Regions from separate parts of the Homo sapiens genome. Here region 1 is linked to region 2. The links come from fine-mapping of genetic effects on gene expression. Tissue or cell type: monocytes. Region 2 holds a variant in brackets; the other region holds the start of a gene. All regions are shown on one strand. Distances are between the middles of the regions.

Region 1 (2,686 bases), 27 kb after region 2:
GAGGAGAGGAATGAGTGAGTGAGGAGAAGAATGAGTGAGTGAGGAGAGGAATGAGTGAGCGAGGAGAGGAATGAGTGAGCGGGGAGAGGAATGAGTGAGTGGGGAGAGGAATGAGTGAGTGAGGAGAGGAATGAGTGAGTGAGGAGAGGAATGAGTGAGTGAGGAGAGGAATGAGTGAGCGGGGAGAGGAATGAGTGAGCGAGGAGAGGAATGAGTGAGTGAGGAGAGGAATGAGTGAGTGAGGAGAGGAATGAGTGAGTGAGGAGAAGAATGAGTGAGTGAGGAGAAGAATGAGTGAGTGAGGAGAGGAATGAGTGAGTGAGGAGAGGAATGAGTGAGTGAGGAGAGGAATGAGTGAGTGAGGAGAAGAATGAGTGAGTGAGGAGAGGAATGAGTGAGTGAGGAGAAGAATGAGTGAGTGAGGAGAGGAATGAGTGAGTGAGGAGAAGAATGAGTGAGTGAGGAGAGGAATGAGTGAGTGAGGAGAAGAATGAGTGAGTGAGGAGAGGAATGAGTGAGTGAGGAGAAGAATGAGTGAGTGAGGAGAAGAATGAGTGAGTGAGGAGAGGAATGAGTGAGTGAGGAGAAGAATGAGTGAGTGAGGAGAGGAATGAGTGAGTGAGGAGAAGAATGAGTGAGTGAGGAGAAGAATGAGTGAGTGAGGAGAGGAATGAGTGAGTGAGGAGAAGAATGAGTGAGTGAGGAGAGGAATGAGTGAGTGAGCAGAGGAATGAGTGAGTGAGGAGAAGAATGAGTGAGTGAGGAGAAGAATGAGTGAGTGAGGAGAGGAATGAGTGAGTGAGCAGAGGAATGAGTGAGCGAGAAGAGGAATGAGTGAGTGGGCAGAGGAATGAGTGAGCGGGGAGAGGAATGAGTGAGCGGGGAGAGGAATGAGTGAGCGGGGAGAGGAATGAGTGAGCGGGGAGAGGAATGAGTGAGTGGGCAGAGGAATGAGTGAGTGGGCAGAGGAATGAGTGAGCGGGGAGAGGAATGAGTGAGTGGGCAGAGGAATGAGTGAGCTGCCTCCCTCTCTTCTCTGTGTTCCCACACCCCAGCCACCCTCAAAACCCAGCTCCCTGAGCCCCATTCCTGCCCCTCAGGAACTCCATGCATCCTGAGACCCCAGACCCGTCCTGCTGACAAACTCACCAGGCCCTGGTGTCCCCAAAACCAGTTCTGTTTCGGGGGTTGAGGAAAACACTGGAGGCGGCGGCAGTTGTCATAGAAGGTGTAGGTCCAGGCCAGGACGCGGGCCAGGAGCCAGGAGCCTCCAACCAGCAGCAGAAGCAGCCACGGGGATGCTGCCACGGGCCCGAGGCCCAGCCAGGACAGGCTCAGCTGCGGCATCCTGCAGGGCAGACGGGATGGAGGGTGGGATCCTGAGGCCCAGGGAAGGGCCCAGGAAGCTCCAAGGACAGTGGAAAGGGGCAAGGATGGGCAGTGCTGGAGGCAGATCAGGGAAGGCTCTGAGATGGGTAAACAAGAGCTGAGATCTAAAGTCCAGAAATGCCCAATGAAAACCAGCAGCCAAGTGGCCTCCAGTTACACAGAAAGGGAAAGAGAGAGAGAGGCTGATTAGAATCCAAAAAGGCCCAGCCTGAATCACTGGGAGGTTGCCAGGGGTCCAGTTACCAGGAAATCACCAGTCTCCCAGGCCAGCAGCCTTGACCCACCCCAACCTTGGGCAGTCCCCTCCCCATCCCAGGCCAGGACCCTCCAGCCCTGCCACTGCCAGCCTGGCTCCTATCAGAAGCAGCTTGTCCCACATACCCTCCTCTCCCCCTCTGCTAGGAGGTCTTTGCCTCTGGCCCCTGATTTCCGGAAGGCTGTGGGAGGCGAGGCTGGGCTGGGCTGGTCGAGCCAATCCCCATGGACTGGGTGTGTCTTCCAAGCCTGGGCAACCAACCAAAACCTGGCGTAGGGCCAGCTGGGTGCAGAGGAGCCAGCTCAGGGTGACACAGCATGGGCACAGGATCCGCAGGTCTCAACATCTCACACCTGAGTGGGAGGGGATCTTGAGGAAGAGTCAAAGGTGACTCTGAGCCCCAAAGTTTACAGCCACCTTGCCCTTCCAAGGCAAGAGTGTGGCAGATAAAGTCATGAACTTGAGAGTTCAGGTGGCAAGAGAGTGGGGCCAGGCCAACCATTGTGCCAGATCATGTTCTGAGCTCCTCTCCACATGTGGTCCAGGAGTTCATCATGCACCATTTCTCAGTGCAGACTTAGGAGATTCAGAGACAGAAGCTCCTGGCCTCTGGCTTCACAGTCTGGCAGGAGTTCAAGTCCTGCCTCCAGGCAACCCAGGGCCTGGGTCGAGACATGACTGACAGGAGTAGGAACAAACTATCTAACTGTGCTGGGGATTACCCGGTCAGATTTTAGAGATAAAGAGCCCCGCTGGAGGAGAATACCTGGAGGCTAGGTTCAGCATAGGAGGACAGAGAGGGGAGATGGGAGGTAAGGCTGAGAGGGGCCATGAGTGGATGGGGCCAGGGACAGGAGGGCAGAGATGGGGGACCCTGAGTGGAGTCCTTATTCTGCCCTCCCCTTGCCCTAACTGTGGGTAGTGAGCCCCTCCTGGACTCAGGCTTCCCATCTGGGAAATGGGATGTCAGATAAGGCCTTAGAGGGGGACAGAGGAGGGATCACAGGAAAATGGGCCTTAGATGGGGACAGATGAAAGATT
Region 2 (2,686 bases):
TTTGAATATGTCAAAACATCCTTGCATCCCTGGGATAAATCTCAATTGATCATAGTAAATTATCTTTGTAGTGTGCTGGTGGATTTGATTTCCTAGTATGTCATTGAGAATTATTGCACTTCTATTCATCAGCGATATTGGTCTGCTGTTTTCATTTCTTCTTGTGTCCCATTCTGGTTTTGGTATAAGGGTAATGCTGCCTTCATAGAATGAATTAAGAAGAACTCTCTTTTCTTTGATTTTTTGGAACAGTTTGAAAAGAATGGGTATTAAGTATTTTTTTTAATGTTTGGTAGAATTCAGCATTGAAGCCATCAGGTCCTGGGCTTTTCTTTGATGAGAGAGTTTTTATTACTGGTTATATTTCATTACTTGTAATTAGTCTGTTTAGACTCTCTATTTCTTTTTGGTTCAATCTTGATAGGTTGTATGTGCCTGAGAAATTATACATTTTTACTAGGCTTTCCAATTTGTTGACTCATGGTTGATTGTAATAGACTCCAATGATTCTTTGTATTTCTGTGGTATCAATTGTCATGTCTCCTTTTTCATGTCTGATTTCATTTATTTGAGTCTTTCTTTTTTCTTACTTTGTTTAGCTAAACATTTGTTAATTTTGTTTATTTTTTTACAAACAAAACTCTTTGTTTTATTGATCTTTTGTATTTTATTTTTACTTTCAATTTCATTTATTTTTGCTCTGATCTTCATTAGTTCATTTTTCCTACTAATTTTGAGTTTGGTTTGCTTTTGTTTTTCTTGTTCCTTGAGGTGCATCATTAGATTGTTTATTTGAAATATTTCTACTTTTTTCGATGTAGGTGTTTATTGCTATAAAATTCCTTCTTAATACTGCTTTTGCTGTATCCCATAGCTTTTGATACATTGTGTTTATACTTTCATGTGATTCAAGAAATTTTAAATGTACTTCCTAATTTTTTATTAATCCATTGGTTGTTCAAGAGCATGTTGTTAATTTTGATGTATTTGTACAGTTTTGAAAGTTATTTCTGTTATTGATTTCTAGCTTTATTTCCTTGCCGTCAGAAAGTATACTTGATGTGATTTCAGTACTTTTAAACTTGTTGAGACTTGCTTTGTAGCCCAATGTGTGGTCTCTCCAGGAGATTTTTCCATGTGCTAATGAAAAAAAATGTGTATTCTGCAGCTGTTGCATGAACTATTCTGTCAATGTCTGTTAAGTCTATTTGGTCTAAAGTGAAATTTAAATACAATGTATCTTTGTTGACTTCCTGTCTAGATGATCTGTCCAGTATTGAGATTGGGTTATTGAAGTCTGCAACTATTATTGTATGGGAGTCTATCTCTCCCTTTAGATCTAATAATAATTGTTTTCTGTAGCTAGGTGCTCCAGTTTTGGGTGCATATATATTTACTATTGTTATATGCTCTTGCTGAATTTATCCCTTGTCTGTTTTATTTTTATCTGATATAAACATAGCTACTCCTATTTGATTTTGGTTCCCACTTGGGTAGAATGTCTTTTTCCATCCCTTCACTTTCAGTCTATATGTTTTTTGATAGGTAAAGTGAGTTTCTTATGG[G/A]AAGCACATAGTTGGGTCATTTAAAAAATCCATTCAGCCAGTCTATATATTTTAAGTGGGGGATTTAATCTGTTTACATTCAAAGTTATTATAGGTAAGAACCTTCTTCTGTCATTTTATTCATTGTTTGCTAGTTGTTTTGTATATCTTTTATTCCTCTCTTCCTCTCTTATTGTTTACGATTGTGGTTTTGGTAGTTTTCTGTAGTAATAAGGTTTGATTCTTTTCTCTTATGTGTATCTGCTTTGCCAGTGGATTTTATACTTTTGCATGTTGTCATGATGGTAATGATCCTCTTTTCACTTCCAGATGCAGGACTCCCTTGAACATTTCTTGTAAGACAAAAAGCTCAATATTGTCAGGATGTCAGTTCTTCCCAACTAAATCTATAGATTCAGTGAAATCACAATGAAAATATCAGAAAGGTTTTGGGTTTTTTTTTTACAATTTAAATTTTTACTAGAGAAAGATATTATTCACATCCACAATTTCTTAAAGTCCTTTATAAATGAGTGTATTCCATAAGAAATACACTAAAATCATTACTTATGTTTCATAGAGGGAAAAAACTATGAGAATACTATTAACCCAAACTATATCCATATTATACTTATTTCTTAAGCATTTACATGTTCAAATACGCTTGTTGGATAGTGATCATTCATCCCCACAGTGGTAAATTTCAGCATAATATTAAGTGACTGAGAGAGACTAAAGTAGTCACATGTAGATTAGATAAACAGATACTTATTCTGTTATACCTAAGCTTACTTATAAAGCAACATAAAATGAGCATTGGATAACAATGAAAACAAATGTAAACAAACAGAATTAAATGTTACTCCCTTCCCTGAAAAACAACAGATAAAAGGGCTTCTTGCTTTATTGAATACAAAACATGATCTATTGTAATAAAAAGGTAAGACATTGATTTTACAAAATTATATTTCCAAATACAGATAAAAAAATCTTGAACAGTTAATTCAGATTTTATTGATCTAAAATGTGCAAAATATCTGATAATACTTAAGTTTATTAAATTCATTGTACATAGGCTGATATCATCCCATACAAAAAAATGCTCAGTATCTTGTTAAGATTCAAAATAGTGTTTAATTATC

The links. PIP is the estimated chance that this variant, and not a neighbour inherited with it, causes the effect.
Region 1: CYP4F11 starts here. The variant in region 2 is fine-mapped to the expression of CYP4F11 in monocytes (TOPMed, PIP above 0.99).

Annotation. Positions count from the first base shown.
Region 1 is chr19:15,933,062-15,935,747 of GRCh38, forward strand. It overlaps CYP4F11 (cytochrome P450 family 4 subfamily F member 11), which reads right to left and starts at 1,468. Exons shown (of 12, transcript NM_021187.4): 1 at 1,150-1,468. The coding sequence starts at 1,347.
Region 2 is chr19:15,905,765-15,908,450 of GRCh38, forward strand. It overlaps the pseudogene LOC729654. Among named protein-coding and RNA genes, the nearest start is that of CYP4F2, 9.0 kb to the left of the region's middle. The variant G/A (reference allele first, on the strand shown) is at 1,566.